7 linked regions of the Homo sapiens genome follow. The protein of the gene in region 1 interacts with the protein of each later gene in a pairwise test. Each region holds a gene or a part of one and is shown on either strand. Other genes may lie near its edges.

The links.
Region 2: the proteins of SLC10A6 (region 1) and SLC7A1 interact in binary tests that used the Homo sapiens proteins (3 or more experiments, as listed by UniProt).
Region 3: the proteins of SLC10A6 (region 1) and LSS interact in binary tests that used the Homo sapiens proteins (3 or more experiments, as listed by UniProt).
Region 4: the proteins of SLC10A6 (region 1) and GYPC interact in binary tests that used the Homo sapiens proteins (3 or more experiments, as listed by UniProt).
Region 5: the proteins of SLC10A6 (region 1) and TM4SF4 interact in binary tests that used the Homo sapiens proteins (3 or more experiments, as listed by UniProt).
Region 6: the proteins of SLC10A6 (region 1) and TVP23B interact in binary tests that used the Homo sapiens proteins (3 or more experiments, as listed by UniProt).
Region 7: the proteins of SLC10A6 (region 1) and SMAGP interact in binary tests that used the Homo sapiens proteins (3 or more experiments, as listed by UniProt).

The regions. Positions count from the first base shown.
Region 1 is NC_000004.12:86,842,885-86,846,384, reverse strand, and holds part of SLC10A6 (sodium-dependent organic anion transporter), read left to right. Parts: intron 1-3,500. UniProt on the Homo sapiens protein: Transports sulfoconjugated steroid hormones from the extracellular compartment into the cytosol in a sodium-dependent manner without hydrolysis.
Region 2 is NC_000013.11:29,533,189-29,536,688, forward strand, and holds part of SLC7A1 (high affinity cationic amino acid transporter 1), read right to left. Parts: intron 3,015-3,500; 5' UTR 3,001-3,014; coding exon 2,631-3,000; intron 1-2,630. UniProt on the Homo sapiens protein: High-affinity, low capacity permease involved in the transport of the cationic amino acids (arginine, lysine and ornithine) in non-hepatic tissues.
Region 3 is NC_000021.9:46,187,946-46,190,774, reverse strand, and holds the end of LSS (lanosterol synthase), read left to right. Parts: 3' UTR 1-2,329; downstream 2,330-2,829. UniProt on the Homo sapiens protein: Key enzyme in the cholesterol biosynthesis pathway. Catalyzes the cyclization of (S)-2,3 oxidosqualene to lanosterol, a reaction that forms the sterol nucleus.
Region 4 is NC_000002.12:126,690,658-126,694,157, reverse strand, and holds part of GYPC (glycophorin-C), read right to left. Parts: intron 295-3,500; coding exon 211-294; intron 1-210. UniProt on the Homo sapiens protein: This protein is a minor sialoglycoprotein in human erythrocyte membranes. The blood group Gerbich antigens and receptors for Plasmodium falciparum merozoites are most likely located within the extracellular domain.
Region 5 is NC_000003.12:149,484,697-149,488,196, reverse strand, and holds part of TM4SF4 (transmembrane 4 L6 family member 4), read right to left. Parts: intron 579-3,500; coding exon 442-578; intron 1-441. UniProt on the Homo sapiens protein: Regulates the adhesive and proliferative status of intestinal epithelial cells. Can mediate density-dependent cell proliferation.
Region 6 is NC_000017.11:18,784,183-18,787,682, forward strand, and holds part of TVP23B (Golgi apparatus membrane protein TVP23 homolog B), read left to right. Parts: intron 1-3,500.
Region 7 is NC_000012.12:51,263,916-51,267,415, reverse strand, and holds part of SMAGP (small cell adhesion glycoprotein), read left to right. Parts: intron 1-3,500. UniProt on the Homo sapiens protein: May play a role in epithelial cell-cell contacts. May play a role in tumor invasiveness and metastasis formation.

The sequences.
Region 1 (3,500 bases):
CAGAGTGCCAGGTACATAGTAGTTGTGCAATAAATATTAGCTACTTTTCCTCTTTTCTTTCTAAATTTTGATTTTGAGTCTTACCAACAAAACTAAAAAAACAAGCAAAAACTAAATATTAGATTTTTAGAAGCTTATAGGTACAAAAGTAATAAAATCAATTTTCAGTAGAAACTCAAATAGGTGAAAATCAAGTACGGTGTGAAACAATATCTAAGTAATTACATTTCTTCATAATTGAATACCAACAAAAAATCAGTTTTAAGCAAAACTCAGTGGATCGTCATTGATAGGAGTTTTATCTGCTGTTAATGCTGGATAAAATCCAAGAGCGGTTAGCACAACATCTTCATTTGACACACGAGGAAGTGGAGATTTAGCTCCCTGCAGATGACCTTGAGCACGTTTCTCATGCCTTCACTCCTGCTTCATGCAGTGCACTTGCAGTTCTCCATGTGTTCACCCCACACAGGCATTTCAGAATCCATTGGTTGGAACCGGTTTGTGCGTTCTGCAAATGAGATGACTGATGACACCCATCCTCTTGCAGTTGCCTGGGCTTGTCATCTTAGCCTTGCCCTGTGACTACCCTCATTCTCGCCATGGCCACTCAATCCACTGCCAAGCCCTGTAGCCCTTCCTCTTGCTGTGTTGCTCACAGTTCTTGCTTCCTGTTGGTCTCCACTAACACTTCCTCAGGTCAGGCCCTCACAATTTCTTTCTTGGCTAATTGTATTTTCACAACAATGAAAGTGCTGTTCTCTGCACCTTTAGTCTCTCCATTACGGCTTTGCAGTAAGTGGATAAGGCAGGCTCTGATACCAGATTGCCTATATTCAAATCCTGACCTTGGGCCTCTTCTCTGTAACTGGAAATCATAACATTACCCGCATGGTACTGTTAGGAGAAAACGAACATGTTATACATACAAAGGCTTCTCAACACCTACTAAATTGGTAGAAACGACTAAGCCAGTCTACTTTACTTCTCCAGGTTCTTTTATTCCACTAGTCCCCTTAAGAACAATGGTTTTTAGTCAAAATGGGCTGCTCATAGTTCTCTGAGCATATCTCACACTCTTCCAGCTTTCTTTTGCCCATGTTGTTCCCACAGTCTGCAGTGCCAACTGACCTTATTTTGTCTCCTCCAGTCATGATGTTGTTCTTCCTTATAACCATCCTAGAAAGCAGTTGGCTGATATGTATGAAGAGCCTTAAAAATTATCCTGCCTCTGGGCCGAGTTTGGCTGATCATGGCTGGGTTCTTTTACATATTTTGGGGTTGGTTAAATGTAGACTGGTCTTGGGTGGTGATATGGTTTGGCTCTGTGTCCCCACCCAATTCTCATCTCGAATTGTAATTCCCGTGTGTCTAGGGAGGGGCCTGGAATCCCCAAGTGTCAAGGGAGGGAAGTGATCAGGTCATGGGGTTGATTTCCCCCATGCTGTTCTAATGATAGTGAGTGATGGTTTTATAAGTGTTTGGAAGTTCCTCCTTTGTTCTTCTTCTCTCTCTTGCTGCCTTGTGAAGAAGGTCCTTGCTTCCCCTTCACCTTCTGCCATGTTTGTAAGTTTCCTGAGACCTCCCCAACCATGTGGAACTGTGAGTCAATCAAATCCCTTTCCTTTATAAATTACGCAGGCTTGGGTATTTCTTTACAGCAGTGTGAAAATGGACTAATGCAGGTGGCTTCAACCTGGACAACTGGGCTCTCTTACTACATGATCTCTCATTTTCTAGTAGACTAGCCTAGACCTGATTACATGGCAGCAGCAGGGTTCTCAGAAAGGCAAAGCAGAAAAGGTCTTTTGAAGTGTTGGCTTTAAACCAGATCCTCTTCCTTCCACCACATTCCATTGGCCAATGCAGACTGCAAGGCCAGTCCAGCTTCATGGATTAGGAAAGTCGATTTTGCCTCTTGATGGGCTGAACTTCCAAGTCACATTACAGCGGACATGGATAAGGGAGGGGTGAAGAATAGGGGGCATTTTTTTCCCCAATATATCCTACTAGAGATGGACAGAATTCCTACCTTTGAGGGTAGAACATGAAAATTAAGATCTGGCAGTACGGTGTAGTAGTTAAGGGCTCTGGAAACAGCAAGCAGACCCATCACTTACTGACTGGATCATCTCGGCAGATTATGCACATTTTCTATGCTTCAGTTTCCTTACTTCTATTTTTTAATTTTTATTTTGATTTTTTTTGAGACGGAGTCTCGCTCTGTCACCCAGGCTGGAGTGCAGTGGCGTGATCTCGGCTCACTGCAAGCTCTGCCTCCCAGGTTCACACCATTCTCCTGCCTCAGCCTCCCGAGTAGCTGGGACTACAGGCGCCTGCCACCACACCTGGCTGATTTTTTGTATTTTTAGTAGAGATGGGGTTTCGCCATGTTAGCCAGGATGGTCTTGATCTCCTGACCTCATGATCCGCCCACCTCAGCCTCCCAAAGTGCTGGGATTACCGGTGTGAGCCACCGAGCCCGGCCAGTTTCCTCACTTCTAAAATGAGAAGCATTCCTACATCGTGAGCTGTTGAGAGGATTGAATGAGTTAATATTTCTAAAGTGCTTAGAATCTCACTTGGCATAAAATGTGATATGAACTATTATTATTATTATATAAGGCAGGCAAAAGAACATCGTGTCCTGGGTCTGTGTTTTAGTCCCTGCTCAAGGAGCTGCATGCCTAACCCTAACCCTGTATATAATGATATATCATAATATATATGTGTCATGTTTTATCTATTCATCCATCAACGGACAATTGAATTATTTCCACTTTTTGGCAATTGTGAATAATACTGTTGAGTCTCAGCTTTCATTTCCCTTGAGTGTATGCTTAGGAGTGGATCTGAGGTTAAATATTAAGTATTTTGTGACTATAGGAAAAGCAAAGCAAAATATGAAGTCCAAATGTCCCCCTTCCTCTACCGTAGTTTCTCCTGAAACTACTGCCCAGAAATGTTTCTCTTGTCTGTCCCCATAATCCGAATTATGTAACTCTTCCTTATCATCTGTTGGAAAGCATTGCAATAGCTGGGCTACTTGTCTGCCTCACCTACTATATCTGTAAGCTCCTGGAAGGCTTGCTCATCTTTGCTTGCACAGTACCAGCCAGGTAGTGGTAGGCACTCGGTAAACATGAGTGAATGAGTGAATGACAGTTTCCGATTGCCTGTGTGTATTACAAAAACAACCCTCAAAAGAGGTCCAGGCCAGGCGTGGTGGCTCACACCTGTAATCCCAGCACTTTGGGAGGCTGAGATGGGCAGATCACTTGAGGTCAGGAGTTCGAGACCAGCCTGGCCAACATGGCAAAACCCCATCTCTACTAAAAATACAAAATTAGCCAGGTGTGGTGATGCATGCCTGTAATGCCAGCTACTCAGGAGACTGAGGCAGGAGAAATGCTTGGACCCAGGAGGCAGAGGTTGCTGTGAGCCGAGATCACACCACTGCACTCCAGCCTGGGCAAGTGACAGAGCGAGACTCCATCTCA
Region 2 (3,500 bases), on another chromosome or scaffold:
GAATGCACTTCACATCCTACCCAATATACACAGGTGTATTCTATCAAATATATATATCCGAATAAAAAGTTCGCAAAACGAGTGTTACCCTTACCACCTGAGAGGCACTCTGATAATATTTAATGCTACCTACTTTGTTTCATTAAAAAAAGTAAACATTGATGACAACTCATGAAAAATTGATTTCATAATGCACTCCTGGGGTGCAGCTGGCAGTCTGGAGGAATGCTGCTTAGGAAGCCTCTTTTCTAGGAACCCCTTGGCTGCAGAGATGATGGTGCCTGCACCATAATTCTTCTCTCAGCAAGAAGAGGGGCCCTAGGAAGTCCTTGAAGGGGCTGAACTCCATCTCAGGGACAAAGCCACTTGCTCATCTCAGTGTTGGCATCAGCCACCTCTGCCACTTTTTGCCTGAACCTGATTCGGAGGCCACAGCATCCCCAGAGTGCAGGACAGCAGACAGACCCCAGCCCTCCTCGTTCTCCCCTCAGCCTGCACCCTCCGGTGCCGAAGAACACCAACAGGGCAGCACTCAAAATGCCAACAATAGTTGGCTGCTGTCTTTCACTCTCATTCTCTCCTCTCACATAATTCTAAAGGGTGTCAGAATGTGTTTCCATTGGTGTTTCTCAGGAAATGTCACTAAAATTCCAGCATTTTCATAGAGCGTTTTCCTTTATTTTCAAAGCGGGCCTTGTCGGTGACCATGGTCCTAATTATCCACAGCATATTGCCACAGTGATCTGCAGAGATTCAATTTCACTATTTGGTCTTATGATAAGTAAGTATCTTTCCAACAACTCAGAAGTTTAACCACATTTCTTCCTCCTAAGCAGCCAATCTATTATGAATTCTGTAAAAATGGTCTCACCATCTCCCTGTCACCCCCAAAGCAGCTGGCTTATGGCAAACGTGGCTCCCAAACCCTGTCCTGCTCAGTGACAGGGGCTACCCCAGCCTTTCTTCCCAGCCTATCCACTCCCAATTTCTGAATTATGCCTTTTAAAAAAATGTTTGCTGGAAAAACTGCCCTTCCCAGCAGCTAAGGCTGAGAACACATTTTTATAATGCATGCAAATGGTTTCACACAAGCAAACGGCACTCTCGCAGAGCCTTACATTTGTTGGTCTAGAAGCTGCAAGCATTTCATGCTCAATGTATATTTTATGCTCAGGTAAATCCTCTGGAAACATAACGGTCCATTTACAATAGCTACATTCCCAGTGAGAGACTTCAGCTTGTGAGAACCATGTGTGGTTGTTAAGTTTTGATGTGGCATTGAAAGAAAACATTGTGAATTTTATTTTAGAACCCAGAAGACTAAGCTATGTTGGCTCTCAGCAGATACTGCAGCTGCTGGAAAGAAAGAGAAGGTGCTGCTCGGAGAATGTGAGTGTGTGCCCTCCCCCAGCTGTCCTGGTGAAGGGGGAGTGATGCCCCCCATGCAGAGATAGGGCTGTGGGGAGCCCAGGGCTGCGAGGATCCCAGCAGGCAGCATGTGTGGCCAGGGAGGGTGTGGTGGGGTCCAGTGGGAGCTGACACAGAAGCAAGGCGGAACCCACATGGCTCAACTTAACAGGTCTTACTGTTTTTTCGCTATTACCAAAAAGTTTGAGAAAAAAAAAAATAAATGGCATGTTGAGTGGCCGTTTGTACCCTTTGCTTCTGAGACTTAGGTTTTTGTTTCTTTTAAGTTGATGTGTTCAACTTCAGTTGTAATCAAAATACAAAAAAGCATAAAGAGAAGCAAAGCGTGTTTACCTGGCAAACCGGAAAGATTTTCTACATTTGCTTCCTTATTTGCTGGGTGGATGTGTTACAGGCCGATGCCCAGTGCCCACACTGCAGGGAAAGGGGCCCCTGGCTACGTGGAGGATCACAGTCAACAAAGGCCTTAAAAACACGCAGACCCACTGACAGCCATTCTGCTCCTTAGACAGTTTTAAGGAAAAGAATCATGGCTAAGCCCAAAGACATAAAGTAATTAACTGTTAATAACAACAGCAACAACATAATGGAAACAATCTGAACATCCCATAAAGACACCAATACATTACGCTGTGTATATAAATCTATACAATGGTAGGCAAGCATTAGAAATGTTACTGTGGAAAAATAGCTAATGATATGAGAAATGTTTACTATATATTGTTTTATAAAGAGATACACTGTAGAAAAATACACATTTAAATTCACAAAAATGTTAACCATAGTTGTATCTGTAGACAGTAAACTTCTGAACACAGAGTGTCTTATGCCTTCATGGGATCCCTAGTATCTAGCACAATGCCCAGCCCAGAGCAGGTACTCAATGAACATTTATTAAAAGAATGAATGAATGAATGAGAGAATTAGTTTCTCCATGTTGTCAGGCAGGGTATTTCTACTTTCTTCTTCATGCTTTTCTTTATTTTCCCAATTTTTCTCTATCAGTGATGCATTTACTCTAGTAATTTAAAAACCTACTAAAAGAAACTAAATACCTCTAAATGAATCAGAAACATCCTATTAATTCTGTGCCTCTCGTGTTAACAAGAATGACCTCCCTGTGGGGCATCCACCCACACTTTGGAGGTGGGAACAAACAGAAAAGTGGTAGAGGGCACGAGCTCCGGACCCCTGGGACCTACCGATGATGTAGGAGAGGATTAAGTTCCAGCCGGTGATGAAGGCCCAGAGCTCTCCAACGGTGACATAGCTGTAGAGGTAAGCTGAGCCCGTCTTGGGGACCCGAGCACCAAACTCGCCATAGCACAGGCCAGCCAGCACTGAGGCCAGCGCAGCGATCAGGAAGGAGATGACAATGGCAGGGCCTGCATTCTCACGGGCCACAGCTCCAGCCAGGACGTAGACACCAGCACCCAGTGTGCTGCCCACCCCGAGGGCCACCAGATCAAAAGTGTTCAGGCAGCGAGACAGCCGCGTCTCCTCCCGGCTACAGTCCACCACCTTCCGCCGCAGCATCTGCTGCCCAATGTTGAGCAGGACTTTGCACCCCATGTTGCTGTTCAGAGCTGTTGAAAAAGAACAAAGATGTTTCCTGATTGCTCCTCATTTCACCCATTACTCTAATCTTATCACATTATGGAAACACAGACAGTGATCAGGTCCTTCATAATCATTTCCTGCTAAAACGCTTTAATTCGTAGAATTCCACCATCAATTGTCAGAAGCACGCAGACTTCTCCAGTTTCACCAGCACATACAGAATTAACCCAGCAGGCCAACAGATACAGATGACTTCATTTCGAGGTCTCTGAGCTTCCACATTTGTAGCAGGTCCTCTTAATGGAGACTCTTCCATGGGTGGAAATTATGCAGTAGAGGAAACACACATTAATGACATTGTTCCTACACTCAGTCATCAGATAATACACCAGGAAAAACAAGGTGTTAGTTCAAGTATGCTGTAATAGAAAGCAAACCAAACCATATCTTAATTTCATTACTAAATTAAATTATTAAATTATTAAAACTCAGAGGCCCTGAATGGCAATAAC
Region 3 (2,829 bases), on another chromosome or scaffold:
CTGACCAATAGCTGAGTTCTTGGGAGAGGAGCAGCTGTGCCTGTGTGATTCCTTAGTGTCGAGTGGGCTCTGGGCTGGGGTCGGCCCTGGGCAGGCTTCTCCTGCACCTTTTGTCTGCTGGGCTGAGGGACACGAGGGCAACCCTGTGACAATGGCAGGTAGTGTGCATCCGTGAATAGCCCAGTGCGGGGGTTGCTCATGGAGCATCCTGAGGCCGTGCAGCAGGGAGCCCCATGCCCCTGGGTCGTGAGCTTGCCTGCGTATGGGGTGGTGTCATGGAGCCTCATGCCCCTGGGTCGTGAGCTCGCCTGAGTATGGGGTGGTGTCATGGAGCCGCATACCCCTGGGTTGTGAGCTCGCCTGCATATGCAGGGTCTGTCATGGAACATCCCAAGTCTGTGCAGCAGGGAGCCCCATGCCCCTGGGACATGAACCCACCTGCGTGGAATGCTGTTTGTGAGGTGTCTACAGGGTTTATAGTAGTCTTGTGGACACAGAAATGCACAGGGGACACTTACGGACACAGAAATGCACAGGGGAGGCCGAGCATAACCAGGGGTGAGGGGCAGGCAGCAGTTGTAGTTACTGCCGCGGGGCACTGCTATGTGCAGGGACAGCCAGCACCCAGCCCATCACCACTCCCTGGGCTGGCTGGCAGGTATGGCACCCTGGGAGCCCGGCATATACCCAGGGCACCCCTACGGCTGCCGCCAGTCTCATGCCCAGGTGGGTGCTCTGGGCTGGAGCGAGGGCCAGGTTTTGGGCCGAGGCTTCCCCAGGCAATCCTGTGAGCTCCCTTCTAGCCTCTGACCCAGTCTGGTCTGGCTTGCATGGATGTAGGGCTTGGGGTGGGAAGTTCAGGTCCTGGCTTTGCCTTTGCCTGATGTGGATGAGCAGCTCACATGCTCAGGGCCACCTGAGACTGTCACTGCTCTCCCCTGGCTACTGGGAGGAGTCACTGAGAGCTTCGTTACCCCTGCTGCCTTGCCCAGGGCACACCCTATACCTCCTTATCTGCTCTTCCCCTCCCTGCCGCCTTCTGGGCAGGTAGCAGTCCCTGGCCTCTCCCCCTGGCTGATCACTCTCCCTCAGGCAGTGGAGATCTGCGTCTGGACACCCTCAGATCCTGTCATTGCCTGCCCAGAGTCCTTCAGGGGCACCCCTCTGCCTTGGTGTGCAGTCCAGGGCTCTCACCCAGGTGCCGCACCCTCTGGGGTCTTCTGTCCAGCTCCCTTGCCCCATGTGCTGTCACTGACTCTCCTTGGGACTCGCCTGCCTGCTCAGAGCCCTGCAGGGCTTGGTCAGCTGCCTGTTCAGTGTCAACACTTCCCTGCACATCTTAAAACTGGGCTTTATTTTCGCTGAAGGAACTGTGTTGGGACCCTTGACATCTGTCAGGTTTGCACATGCTGTTTTTTTTTCTCAGCCCACGTGTTCTCCCCCACGTGGGGTAGCAGCAGGACAGACAGTGAATCACAGAGTCTGCCCTGAGCAGAGGCTGCTGTCCCTGGGACTCCTAGCCATGGTCAGACTGTACAAAACGGTTTTCCAGAAATGAAATGTAAATCCATTTTTATACTGAAAATGTTACTGAAAGTCACTTTTATGAGCATCTGCCTTAATAAACAGACATTGATTCCCTTATCAGAAGCCTGTCACACTGTGTTTCGTTTCATCCTGGGGAGAACTGCAGATTTGGGGTTTCTGGCTGTCATACGTCACCTGCCTGTGGGGCGAGTGGGAGGCCCAGCCTGGTTTAGGGAACAAGAGTGACGTGAGGAGTAGCAGGGTGCGTCTCCAGTTACCTGAGGGAAAACAGATATTTTAAGAGATAATAGCATAGCCTATTTTAATATGTTTTAAAGGCCATAAGCATATCCAGGAAGATAAATAAACGTGATACAATGTCCACATAGGAGGAACTTTCTTTCACTGCATTGTTTTCCTTCACAGTGGCCTTCAAGTCACAGGACGCAGCGATTCCCTGCCCTCTTCGGTGTTATTACACAGGCAGGACTTCAGTGTCAGTATCCCTGCCTTCAGTCTTCTTTAGAAATCACATCTGTGTTCAATCCATTGTTTAGAGGGAGTGTATTTTTCCTGTTCCACGAAGAGGACTTTTTGTTCACAATTGGATCACAATGCAGAGGAGTCTGTTCCTCCCCCGTCGGCTTCTCGGTGCTGGGAGGGTGACCTGTCCCAGATGACTCATCACCCTGACATGCTCTTGACAAAGGACACCACCAAGAGGAGATGGCAGCTGTACCGGTGCAGCCTCTGTCTGAGGGGGATATTTGCCTCAGTGTGATTAAAAATCAGTCATGAAAGATTTTTGAATTCAGATTATTTTTATCAGGAACAGATTTTGAACATCCTGAAATCTTTTCCCTGGCATCATATTAGGTTTTCTTTGTTCACTATGATGTAAAGTTTCAGACTCTTGATATTTTTAATATCAACATAGACGGTAGGACAAGGAACGGTACCAGAAATGAGTAAAGAGACAATAATGATAAGATCGATTTATCAAGACATAACAACCCCAAATGTATATGCACTAAATAACAGCTTCAAAATACATGAAGCAAAATGGCAGAATTGAAGAGAATGAGATAAAAACAGAATTTTAACGGGTGCTTTCCGTACTTTGTAACTGACAGACATGAGATCTGTAAGGACAGAGATTTGAACATCAGCCAACACAAGCGAGCGGTCTTTAGAGGATGCTTCACCTAACACTGCTGAAGCACACGGCTTTGCAAGAGCTCGTGGCCCATGTGCTAAGGTAGACCACAGCTGGCTCACCAGGTGAGTCTCAGTATGTTAGCA
Region 4 (3,500 bases), on another chromosome or scaffold:
AATACATACATAGATACGTACGATGTATGCATGTATATATATATTTACCCAGGGCTAGACTCCTCCATTCCACATTCAAAACCACCTCTGAGGGAGAGAAAAAATGGCCACAGCCACCACTGCCCAAGTCCTTAGGTCAGTTCTCCCCTGGATGTTTTCACCAAGGCCCCCCACCCTGGCTGCTTGAAGGGCTCTGTGATGAGAGCTCACCTGCAATGACGACAATGTCCATTATGGTGGGGGTGGAGGTCTCCATTCTGCCATCCGGCCATCCAGACATCCCTGGATCAGGCTCTGTGAACAGAGGACAAGAATCTGAGGTCAGAGAGGAAGATTCTCCATGCCTAGCAGCACCTTGGCCCAAGCTGCATCCTTTGCTCAGGTGTGAGCAGCTCTGAGAATGGGTCCAAGTGGAAAGGAGCAGTGCGGCGCACCCACTGCTCCTAGCAGGGATGCACAGACCAGGAACCAGGTTCTGCTTGGTCACTGACTGGGATGGAACTGTTTGAACCTGAACCACCAGGTCACTCCAGGCCCATTTGAGTTATCTGCCTAATGCCTGCACTGAGAGTGGTGCTGCACGTGGTAGATGCTCAACAGATATCTGTGCTGTGTATGAAGGCAGGGACTCTTGTTGTGTTTAAGAAAGAATGTTTGTGGAGTGTCTGATGCTCACACCAGGTGTCTCAGTCCATTTTGTGTTGCTATAGCTGAATACTTGGGTAATTTATAAAGAAGAGAGGTTTATTTGGCTCACAGTTCTAGTGGCTGGGAAGTCCAAATTGGGCAGCTGCATCTGGTGAGGGCCTCATACTACTCCCACTCATGGCAAAAAGCAGAAGGGGATCTGACATTCGCAAAGAGACCACAAGGTGATATAGAAAGCAAGAGAGTTTAGAAAGCTGAATTTGCTTTTATAACAACCTGCTCTCCAGTGACTAATCCAGTCTCACGACAGCTAGAACTCCCTCCCTCCCTCAAGGGGGTATTAATGTATGCATGAGGGATCTGCCCCTGTGACTCAAATATCTCCCACTAGGTCCCACCTCCCATCACTGCCACCTTGGGAATCAGATTTCAACATGAGCTTTTGCAGGGTCAAACCACATCCAAACCATAGCACCAGGTGTTGCTTTAACTGCCTTCTATCTACTCTATCATGCAGTCTTCACATCCATCCTATGAGGTGCCTGGTGTTAATGGCCCATCTCACAGGAAGAACACCAAGGTTCAGAGACGTGATGTGCCCTTGATCACACAGCTCATCCGATATCAGGTCAGGACTTGGCCAGTGCTCTTGCCTCTGGAGTGCACTTTCTCTCTTGGAGAAGCCCTTCCCAGGGCTCCTGTCTGAGGAGTCATTCCTGAAGCCCTCCCATAGGTCTTTACATTGACTCTGCTGTGGGAAGGACCACTCTATGACACTATCCAAGTTACTGAGTGTGTTTTTTCACAGCTTAATGACCTGGCCAAAGAGGGTAGGATGTCTAGGACATTGGGGACCGGGATGTTTCCTAGAGCTGCTGCACAGAATGCCTTCTCTCCTCTGGGAGATGATTGTGAAGAAGGATTTATTGGATCACAGAAATATCAGTGTTAACATAGGAAATCCCACGTTCCCATTACAATGGCTCTACATAATAAAACAGAGAAGGATGCTTCATAATAGTCATTTCCACTCAGATAATCACTTTAATTATAGTGCTATGAGGTCATTCTCCCCAGTGCAGCTGCCAGATGCCTCTTTCTTATAAGTAACTGCCTGCTGGAGTCAGGAGTCATAATGGGTGAGGGGAAAACAGACTCCCAGCTAGGGGTCCACAGCAGGACACAGATGGGCCAAGCTAGGGGTGTCTGGGGCCACCAAGGAGCTTGGAGGTGGGGAAGAAGATAATACAAGGCACTGAGGCAGCCCAGGGACCCAGTGAACACTGGCTCAGGATCTGGGTCTCGGGAGCCAGGAACCAGGCAGGGTATAGGATCCAGCATTCACGGTGTTTCTCAGTAGCAAGACCTGAAGCAAGGGCCGTAGCAAGTTCAAGTGGGTGCTAGACTTTATTATATAGAGTGAACAAGTGCAGCCTCCAGTTTAGTATCTAGCACATAGTAGGTACTCAATAAATATTCACTGAATGCATGAGTAAATGCATGCATATATAAATGAATGGATTTAGTGGTGGGGTTCTAGACTTTTCCAATCAACAAGCACCTCAAAGTTCAGAAAGAAAGAATAACACCTTGCTTAAGTAGGCATGGATGGTTATAGAAGCTCAAATACCCAGAACTGCCCTCAGAAATTTTCCAGGTGAAGACAGCATTTATTAGGACAGTTTGTCCAACACAATCAGCGTTAGAAGAGACTGTTATTTCCTCTTCCTTTAAAACAACTAACAATCGCTTACTAGGTGCCAGGTGCAGGTCTCAACATTTAAAGCAATTTAACATGGTCCTTGCAACAGTTGCAAGAACACTGCTTGGAGATTATTCATTCTAAAACCAGGGAAGTCCCAGAAAACAGGGCAGAGCTGGTTGCTGTATGTACACTATACAGGGGGAAAAATGAGGCTATTAACTGTGCTTGGGGCAGGTTGTGTGGTTTGTGTTTTTCAATGGCCCGATGACTGCTCCTCAGCCTACCCTGCTCCCATTCCCTCCTGGCGATTGAGGACTGGGGTGAGTCTGCAGGAGGAGCAGGACTTGGCCACACAAAGGACTGAAGTGGGAGAGGGTAACGCAGAGAATGCCAAGGTGTTGGCTGTGCGAGGGGCAGTCACCCCTCACTTCTGCTGGGACTCCAGAGGGGTGGGGAAGTACAGTGTAAGGCTGCTCAGGAGGGGTCAGATCACTCAGGACCTTGAGAGTGAGGGGGCAGCAGTCTCATGGGGTGGGGGTGTTTTGAGTTTGGGCATTTACTTTGAAGCTGCAGAGCAAGCCTCTGTCTTTTCTTAGAATGCAGGTTTATTTGGAGGCCTTGGGGAGGGACTGCTGAAGAATATGGAAAGTCTGAAACTGCTCCCAAGTCCCACCTTTATAGAACAATTTCCTAAACTTCCTACTGCCTTCAGGGGAACACTTGTATCTGCATAATGTTAATAATATCACCTAGGAAGAATAAAAGCTCAGTGGTGCAATGAGTTGGAGAATGCCAGGTTACACAGAGTCCAACAGGTGTCTTTGATTGCTTGCTTCTGCTGCTTTTTCTTTCTTTTCAAATTGTAGATGTTTCCTGAGTTATTAATAAGCTGCTGAGAAGTGTGGATCTCAAAGAAGGTCGCAGAGCACACAGCACCTCCCAAACTTGGTTGTTCTTCAAACACAGTTTGCAGTCACAGCCATGACCCATGGGGAGCCCGTTGCTCAGGGTTCAAAGCAAGGCAAAGGCAGGCTCAAGTTTCCTTGAGGATGGAGGGTTGGGGGTCATGGACCCAGGGAAGAAAATAATGTGGGATGAGGGAGACGGTGGAGAAGTCTAAGTAGCCTGGTCAGTCTACCCTCATCTC
Region 5 (3,500 bases), on another chromosome or scaffold:
ATGATTGTTTAATTATAGGCAATTTGGGGTATTAATGAAAGCCCTTGGGCCCAGTTAGTGGTTAATTATTCTTGTTTTCTATTATGAGATTTGTAATGAAAACTATTACTCTGTTTATTAATATTATTAGTTGCCTTGTGTTGCTGCTAATAAATATTTGGGTGCAAGTGATGACACAACAAATCTCTTCCTTCCCTCAGGCCAAAGGAGGCATCCGTCCTCTTTTAGTTATTTCTCCTGGGGTCTGTCAAAGGAGCAATTAGAGGTGAGAGCCTATGCAACTTTGCTGTATTCCACAACTCCATCTCTGCCTCAAAGGAGCACCGAGCCTGAGGCTTGCATAAGGATGAAGACATGGCATTGTGTGCAGTCTCCCCTTGGGCAATTTATCTGCCCATGCCCCTTGTGGTGACAGGTGGGCATTGCAGGGTGTGGCCTTACCCGTCGTGGAAGGGGTAGCCCCATGTACTATTGGCCATGAGGCATTTAGGACCCTTGTTGATTGAAATGGCTGAGATGATAAACGAGTATCCAGCTCCCAAGAATCCAACCACAGCAAATATCGTGGAGGTGAACATCTGAAAGAGAGGAAGAGAGACAGTCACATTCTCCAGGTGGTCCAGAGGATACACTCAACAAACCTAATCCACCTGCTGTTGAACATGGTGACTACAAGAAGTTATGGAGTAGGAGCTAGTCTTTATAGTAGATGGGGCCTGTGGGGTCTTCTAGAATGAATTTTGGTGTCTTCTTTTCCCTTCTTCACTCCCATTTCCATTTCTTTTTCACCTTTTCATTGATGACAGAGGTGTTGGTTCTGTTACCTTTGAGCCATGGCCTTTTAACCTTGTTAAAGATAAACTCTCCTCCCCAGGGCTGATATATAAAGCCAATCTATTATAGAATCAAAGAACCTTAGGATTGGCGTAATCTTTTTTTTTGAGACGGAGTTTCACCCTTGTCGCTCAGTCTGGAGTGCAATGGTGTGATCTCAGCTCACTGCAACCTTCACTTCCCAGGTTCAGGGGATTCTCCTGCCTCAGCCTCCTGAGTAGCTGGGGTTACAGGCGTGCGCCACCATGCCTGGCTACTTTTTTGTATTTTTAGTAGAGACAGGGTTTCACCATGTTGGCTAGGCTGGTCTTGAACTATTGACCTCAGTTGATTCGCCTGCCTTGGCCTCCCAAAGTGCTGGGATTACAGATGTGAGTCACCGCACCTGGCCTGGCAGTAATCTTAAGTTTTCTGGTCAAATTATCCTGCTAAGGCCAGTCACTGTGATGTCTCATGTGACAGGCAGGTTCTACTTATGAGAAAGAGTAAAAGTTTAGAACCCCTCCTCATTGGCCCTCATTATGTTCCTCGAGGCCAAAAAGATCAAGTCTAACCTGTCTTCCATTTGGCATCAGTCTTTAAAATATCTGAAGATTGCCTTGACATCTCTCACCCCTTCCACCCTCGGAGCATTTTCTCTTCTTTAAGTTAAACAATCAAAAAATTCCATTCTTTTAAATATTTTTCTATGATGGAGATTAATGAAAAACAGATTAGACTACCATATTTTGTTTTCAATTATAAAATCAAAATAGAATTATTGACTGCAAAAGGCAGAAGCAATCCTGGAACCCAGCTAGGTTAACTCCCTCTTACGGATGAAAAAATGTAGGCCCAGGATGTTAAGAACTTTTGCAATATCCATTCTAGACAGTAACTAGAAAGTAGAATGAAAACATTTAAAATTTTGGAAGAAGAGGCAGAAAACGATCACCTCTGTTGCTTTGATGACGAAGCACAGGGTTTAAAGTCAGCAGACCCAGACCCAGGCTCATATCTCAGCTTTGCTAGTCTTCTCTGTGTAATGACTTTGCATAATGAATGTGTCCTCAGAGCCTTAGTTTTATCATCTTAAAATGGGCATGATAGAGCCCACCTTAAATATCTGTTGTGAAAATTAGACGTGGCAGCTTAAGCTAAATGTCGGCTATTTTCCCTTTCCCCTTTCATGTTATTAACAATATTATCATAGTACATATCTGGGATGGGGTAAGGTTTGAAGGTGAAGAGGACCTGATCGTGCCTGGGTGATTGGAATCTATGTAATAATGGAGTTCTACTTTAGCTGGGATTCATTTTCATATCATATATCAATGTATTTTGGATGCAACTTTTAAAAAAAGTCTTTTTAATAGAAAATTTAACTCTTTTGCCAACTCATCTGATTGATGCAACGTTTTAATACCAAGCTCTATTCATGTGCTTTGTCTGACTCTCCTTGTAGAACTGACCCTTCATTCTTCATCTCTTCCAACCCCTGTACTCTAGATTGCACAAATTTCTATCACAGCACAATGCCTCTAATACAATAATGCATAGGTTTTTTTGTTTTTGTTTTTGTTTTTGTTTTTAGACAGGGTCTTGCCCTGTCACCCAGGCTGAGTGCAGTGGTGCAATCGTGGTTCACTGCAGCCTCAACTTCCTGGGCTCAAGTGATCCTCCCACCTCAGTCTCCTAAGGAGCTAGGACTACAGGCATGCACCACCATGCCCAACTAATGCTTAGCTTTTTATGGCTGTCTTCTCCAAATAGAGCACAAGTTCCTTGAAGTCACAGACAATAAGTTATTTGAAGATAGGGCATTTTTCCACACTTAGCATAGTTTTACAGTTTTCCTTCTTCCTAGCTTATCAAAGGCACTGGATAATGACTTGTTGCATGTTTTCAATGACTAAGGTTTCATATTACTAATTGTTTAGATTTTTCCCCTTATTGTTTATGTTTAGGGTATCTAAATCCACTCTCAGCATCCAGAACATTCATGACTTTAACCTAGGTCAGAAGTAAGTGAACATTTTGGTAAATTTCTCGTGTTAGAACAGGCAATCTCTTTTCCAAAGGATGTAAGGTTGAATAAGTTTGAGAATTGCTGGATTACATAACTAAGTTTCATTCCTGCTGCACTTCTAAAAATATAGTACTTATGAAACATGAATTTGTGTAAACTTCTGAGAAGGAAATCTACTACATATGCTGGAATATAAGGAAAATCATTCACTCTCACATTATTCCTCAGAAATGAAGGAATTACCTTAGAGTTGAGTCCTTATTTCATCTATCAGGTAATAATGTATTTCCTCAAACACTTTATTTTGAACAACCAAGTACTGCCTAGAGAAGACATCAGTCAGAAACAACTCAATCATTGTTAGATGACAGAATTGTGTTAAAAATTTTTTCTTAACACATATTTATTAATTATTATAAAAAGGTTGAACCCATAGTTCCTAGTTCTGGATATTATAGTTAACAAGGTATTCTAGGCCTTGTTATAGTTTAAAGGGTATTCTAGGCCTAGCGTGGTGGCTCACGACTGTAATCCCAGCACTTTGCGGGGCCGAGGCTGGTGGATCACGAGGTCAGGAGTTCCAGACCAGCCTGGCCAATATGGTGAAACCCCATCTCTATTAAAAATATATAAAAATTAGCCAGGCACAGTGGTGCAT
Region 6 (3,500 bases), on another chromosome or scaffold:
ACATGCTCTTTCACTGGTCACTCCATTCTTTTTCCTTTAAAGACTTGTATCATATATGCTTGTCTTTTAATTCTTCCAGTCTCTCTTGTATTCATTCTAGTCAGTCTCTCTTCCCCTCTCCCAACCATACTGGAACTGCTCTTACTGAGTTCCCTGATGACCTGTTAAAAATACAGTGGTCATGGCTGGGTGCAGGGCTCATGGCTGTAATCCCAGCACTTTGGGAGGCCAGGATGGGTGGATCATGAGGTCAAGAGATGGAGACCATCCTGGCCAACATGGTGAAACCCCGTCTCTACTAAAAATACAAAAATTACCTGGGGGTGGTGGCATGTGCCTGTGGTCTCAGCTACTCGGGAGGCTGAGGCTGACGCAGGGGAGTCGCTTGAACCCGGGAGGTGGAGGTTGCAGTGAGCCAAGATCACGCCATTGCACTCCAGCCTGGCGACAGAGCGAGACTCCGTCTCAAAAAAAAGAAAAAAAATACAGTGGTCTCTCTTTGGTTTTCATCTTACTTATGAGCAGCATTTGACACAGATGATGGATCCTCCTCCTGGAGGCACTTTGTTTGGTTTCCAGGACACTACCCCCTCCTGGCTCACCTTATGTTCCTTGGTACTTCTTTTTCAGTCCCCACAGCCTATTCCTTCTTATCTTTGTGATCTCTAATTATTGGAATGCTAGGAGTCTGTCTTAGCCATCTTTATCTTTTTAGTTGTTCAGGACAAAAACTTTGGAATCTTCCTTGATTCCTTTTATTTACCCTTCCTCCACCTCCCCAGTCAGTCCATCAGCAAATCCTGTCAGCTCTCCCTTAAAATGTACTTGGAATCTATTTTTCATCACCTCCACTGCATCCATCTTAGACCAAGCCATTACTTCTTGGCCTCGTGATTAAAGTAGTTTCCTAACCAGTCTCCTAGCGTTGTGCTTTTGTCCCTCCTTCTTCTCCCCTCCCCCTCCAGATTTTTACTACAGTAGCCAGAATTCTCTTTCTAACAGGTGAGTCAGAACATGCAGTCTTACACTTAAAACACTCCAATGGATCTCCCTTTCAACGCTTTTTGGTTTTAGCATCTTAAAATGTCATTTAGCATCTTAAAATGTCCAAAATCAAACTGCTGATTTTGCCCCGAAATCTTTTGTGTCCGTGGTCTTCCCCATCTTAGTAAATGTAACTCCAGGAGTGCAGAGCTATTTGTCTTTTTTTTTTTTTTTTTTAAATCTGTACCACTTACAGCAGTACCTGGCACTTGGTAGGCACTCAGTATTTACTGAATAAATGAGAAGAAATGAGTCTTTCAAAGAGCAGGGTAAGAGAATAGTGTTCTAGGTAATATGAACCATAAGTGCAAAAGAACCTGACGGGGCCCAAGTTTGGCATGTTTAAGGAACTGAAAAGAAGGCCAGCCTGGGCATGGTGGCTCATGCCTCTAATCGTAGCACTTTGGGAGGCTAAGGCAGGAGAATTGCTTGAGCCCGGGAGTTTGAGACTAGCCTGGGCAACATAGCGAGACCCTATTTCTGCAAGAAATTAAAATATTAGATATGGTGGCTTGCAGTACTCAGGAGGCTGAGATGTAGGACCTGCAGTAGTGACCCCTGATTGCTCCACTGCACTCCAGCCTGGGCGAGAGCCAGACCCTGTGTCAAAAAAAAAAAATGGCCAGTCTGGGCAGGAGCTTAGGTACTGTATAAATTTCCTGTTGCTACTGCGGCAGTGAAGTCATATGTACTGTTGTAAAGTTCTGGTGGTCAGAAGTCCAGAATGAGGCTCAAGGGGTTAAACATCAAGGTGTGGGTAGGGGTTCTGGAGAATCAGTTTCCTTGCCTGATGCAGCTTCTAAACACCTGGGATCCCTTCCCCATCTTAATGCCATGAGCACAGCCTCTTCAAATCTCTGTCTCTCATCTCTACTTTGCTTGTTTCATCACCTTCTCTCACTGACCCTCCTTTGTTTCCCTTGTAAGGACCATTGTGATCACGTCATCTGACCAGCCTGGGTAATCCAGGATGATCTCTTGACCTCAAGATCCTTAACTTAATCTCATCTGTGAAATTCTTTTTGCCAAGTAAATTTACATATTCACAGGTTCCAGAGATTAGAACCTAAACATTTTTGGGAGGGGTGAGGAGGTATTCAGCCTACCACAGTTAATGAAGAGTGAGTGGCCTGAGATAAGGTCTTAGAGATTGGCAGGGACCAGATCATGATAGGTCATGATAGGGAGTCTGTTTTTCAGTCATAGTGCTGAGAGGTTTCAGTAGGGGAATGATAGGATTTGATGTGAAAAAGTCTCCCTGGCCGCTGGATGGCGATTAGACTGTTGGGATCGAGAGCAGAAGGCCTCAGCTTTTTATTCATAACATCATACGGTGGATCTCAATCTTGCTGTACGTTATGATCACACCTCAAAGCAATTATATCTGAACCACTGAGGGCTGGACCCAAGTATCAGCCTTTTTTTGTTTGTTTGTTTGTTTTTTAAGAAAAAGCATTCTAATTGTAGCCAGGGTTGAGAACCACTAGTCTCATAGATCTGAATCCATTTTACCTTTTCAGCCTTAGCTCAGTAGGAGCTTCTCGCATCCATCACTTACTGCATGAGCTACTTGACCATTTCTTAGACAAACTTCCTGTATTCCCACCTGTGCCTTTCAAAATATACCTAGTCTAGGGAGGCCTACGCGGACTGTCAGGGCCCAGCTGACAAACTCTCCTCCAGAAAGCTTCTCCAGTGCCCTGTAGTAGGAATGATTTGCTTCCTTCCCTGGCTCCCATTTGCACTTAGATTTCTCAGCCCTGATCACAGTCAGCTGTATATTATCGTCTCCTTTGCTTATTTACTCATGCCTTCAACAAATACTGTACCACTTGGCTGAATGCTCTGCTAGACACTAGGATTTACTACAATGCAAAGACAGTCTTGGTTGGGCGTGGTGGCTCACACCTATAATCCCAGCACTATGGGAGGGTGAGGTGGGCGGATCCCTTGAGGTCAGGAGTTTGAAACCAGCCTGGCCAACGTGGTGAGACTCTGTCTCTACTAAAAATACAAAAATTAGCCAGGCTAATTAGCCGAGACACACTCCTGTAATCCCAGTTACTCAGGAGGCTGAGGCACTAGAATCTAGCTTGAACCCAGGAGGTGGAGGTTGCAGTAAGCTGAGACCATACCACTGTACTCCAGCCTGGGCGACAGAGCAAGACTCTGTCTCAAAAAAAAAAAAAAAAACCTTGTCTTCTAGGTCCTCCAGCAGCTTAATCTATATGGAGGTAGGAGCGGGTAGATGTGCAATAAGAATACTCTGAGATGATTGTTCAAATGGAGATTCGTCCAAGTGCTGTGGGAACATGGGGATTTCAGAGACAGGTTTTCAGCTATTTCAGTATTTGAGCTAAAAAACTTGAAGGATGATTTGGTATTTGGTGGTGAGCAGGGCATGAGGAAGGGAAGAGTTTTCTGAGACAACATGTGAAAGGCAGGAGATGGGAGAG
Region 7 (3,500 bases), on another chromosome or scaffold:
GCCCTTGAAAGACGGACAAGGTTCATACAGGCAAAGGGGCGCAGCAGGTATCTTAGAGAAACGTAGAATACCTTTTTCGTGTGTACCTGCTCTAGATAAAGGTAGAATACCTCATACCATGTGTGAAGCTACAGAGACGATTTACCCTGGAGGATGTTCAGGAAGCGGGTGGGCAGAGGACCTCCAGAATAATCCTGCCCACAAGGGAAAAAAGGTGATACCTTGGCAGCTAGCTGAGGGATTAGAACCTTGGCAAGGGGGAGCTGTTTACATTTTTTAAATTTTATTATTATTATTTTTGAGACCAAGTCTTGCTGTGTCACCCAGGCTGGAGTACAGTGGCTTAATTTCGGTTCACTGCAACCTCCGCCCCCTGGGTTCAAGCAATTCTCCCACCTTAGTCTCCCTAGTAGCTGGAATTACAGGCGTGCGCTACCACGCCTGGCTAATTTGTATACTTTTAGTGGAGACAGGGTTTCGCCATGTTGGCCAGGCTGGTCTCAAACTCCTGGCCTCAAGTGATCTGCCCTTCTCGGCCTCCCAAAGTGCTGGGATTACAGGCTCATGCCATTTTTTCTTTTTTAAAATTTATGGTAAAATAAACATAGTACAGGTATTACCATTTTAGCCATTTTTTCGCAGACAATTCAGTGGTAGAGTAGTCCCCGCTTATCCACAGGGGATTCATTCCAAAAACCCCAGTGGATGCCTGAAATCTCAGATAGTACTGAACCCCATCTATACTGTGTTTTTTCCTGTACATACATACTTATGATAAAGCTTAACTTGTAAATTAGGCACAGTAAGAGATTAACAATAATAATAAAATAGAACAACTATAACAATATACTGTAATAAGAGTTATGTGAAAATGGTCTCTCTCACTTAAAATGTCTTATTTACTATAGATCTTAGAAACCTCAGTACACAGTTCTTTTTTTTTTTTTCTTAAGTCAAGAACTTTCACCTTTTCACTTAAAGGAAGCACTTCTTGTTGGCATGTCCAAATTGCATCACTATTCTTGTGCTTTGGGGCCACTGTCATGTAAAATAAGGGTTACTTGAACACAAGCGCTGTGGTACTCTACTAAGCGTTTATAGCATGGACACAAAAGGATGATTCACTTTCCAGGCAGGATGGAGCAGGGTGTGAGATTTCATCACGCTACTCAGAACGGTACATAATTTAAAATGTATGAATTGTTCCTTTCTGGAATTTTCTTTTTCTGTTAAATTTCTATTTAATGTTTTCGGACTGCAGTTGACCACGGGTAACTGAAACCTAGGAAAGCAAAACCGCAGATAAGAGGGGACTACTGTTGTTTTTTTTTTTTGAGACGGAGTCTCGCTCTGTCACCCAGGCTGGAGTGCAGTAGCGCCATCTCAGCTCACTGCAAGCTCCGCCTCATGGGTTCACGCCATTCTCCTGTCTTAGCTTCCCGAGTAGCTGGGACTACAGGCGCCCACCACCACGCCCGGCTAATTTTTTGTATTTTTAGTAGAGACGGGGTTTCACCGTGTTAGCCAGGATGGTCTTGATCTCCTGACCTCGTGATCCGCCCACCTCGGCCTCCCAAAGTGCTGGGATTACAGGCCAGTGCCTGGCCTGGGGGGACTACTGTATTAAGTAATTCATGTTCCTCACCACCATCCATCTCCAGAACTTTACCTTCCCAAACCGAAACTTGACACCCATTAAACACTGATTCCCCATTTCCCTGCAAACACCGTTCTATTTTCTGTCTATGTAAATTTGACTGCTCTAGGTACTTCATGTAAGTAGAATCATACAATAGACCTTTTGTGTCTGGCTAACTTCACTTAGCATAATATTCTCAAAGTTCATCCATATTGTAGCATGTCACAATTTCCTACTTTTTCAAGGCTGAATAATATTGTTGTATGTGTATATTACATTTTGTTTATCCATTCATCTATGATGGACAGTTGAGTTGCTTCCACCTTTTGGCTATTGTGACTGATGCTGCCATAAACATGGGTGTACAAATATCTTCTTGAGACCCTGCTTTCAGTTGTTTGGGATGTATGCTCAGAAGTGGAATTGCTATATCATGTGGTAATTCTGTGTTTGATTTTTTTGAGGATCCACCATATAGGTTTGCACAGCAGCTGCACCATTTTATATTCCTACCAGCAATGCATAAAGGTTTCAGTTTCTCTACAACCTTGCCAACACTTGTTACTTTCTGTTTAATGGTAGTCATCATATTGTGTGTGAAGTGGTATCTCATTGTGGTTTTGATTTGCATTTCCCTAGTGATAGTGATGTGGAGCATCTTTTCATGTACTTATTGACCATTTGTATATCTTTGGAGAAATGTCTATTCAAGTCTTGTCCCATTTTTTAGTTGATTTGTTTTGTTCTTGTTCAGTTGTATATTTATATCCTTTAAAAATTTTTTTTAAAAAATTGATCGTTGAATCAGTCCTCTCTCTCTTTCTCTTTTTTTTTTTTTTTTTCTGGCGATGGAGTCTTGCTCTGTCACCCAGGCTGGATTGCAGTGGCACCATCTCGGCTCACTGCAACCTCCACCTCCCGGGTTCAAGCAATTCTCCTGCCTCAACCTCCTGAGTAGCTGGGATTACAGGCACACGCTGCCACACCCGGCTAATTTTTTGTATTTTAGTAGAGACGGGGTTTCACCATGTTGCCCAGGCTGGTCTCAAACTCCTGAGCTCAGGCAATCCGCCTGCCTTGGCCTCCCAAAGTACTAGGATTACAGGCATGAGCCACTGTGCCTGACCTTTTTTTTTTTTTTTTTTTTTTAAGAGATGGGATCTTACTCTGTTGCCCAGGCTGGAGTGCAGTGGCACAATCCTGGCTCACTACAGACCCAAACATCTGGGCTTGAGGGATCCTCCCACCTCAGACTCCTGAGCAGCTGGGACTGCAGGCGTGCACCATCACGCCCAGCTAATTTTAAAATTTTTTGTAGAGATAGGGTTTTGCTATGTTGCTCAGGCAACTCTCCCGGCCTGAAGCCATGCTCCTTCCTCTGCCCCTGAGTTGTTGAGATTATAGGCGCAAGCCACCTCACCTGGCTGCATTCTTGATCCAGCGAGTGACATGAGTGAAGTAGTGATTTAGGACAGTCTCCTATCCACTGGGTCCAAGCAAGTGTAAGTTCAGAGACAGCAATAGACAAAAGAATAGAAATCACAGATAGGAAGAAAGCTTATACTTTAAATGATGGGATCACTAAAGGCCAGCTCTTCTCTTCTACCCCTGTCTTGCATTTCTCTTCCCCCACCTTCCCACCTATTCCTCCCTCACAGTCTATAAAGACTTCCTAGAGAAGATATCCTCCAGGAACCTTGAAAGGAAGGGCCACATTATGACTCCTGAGCCCTGGGCACTTCTGTCTTTGTGGGCTCCTCCTTCACTTAAAAAAATATTAAAAATCATATTTTACAACTGCATCAGTGTAAGGAAGAATATAATATAATATAATTAATATTTATAATTAGTAATTGAATGG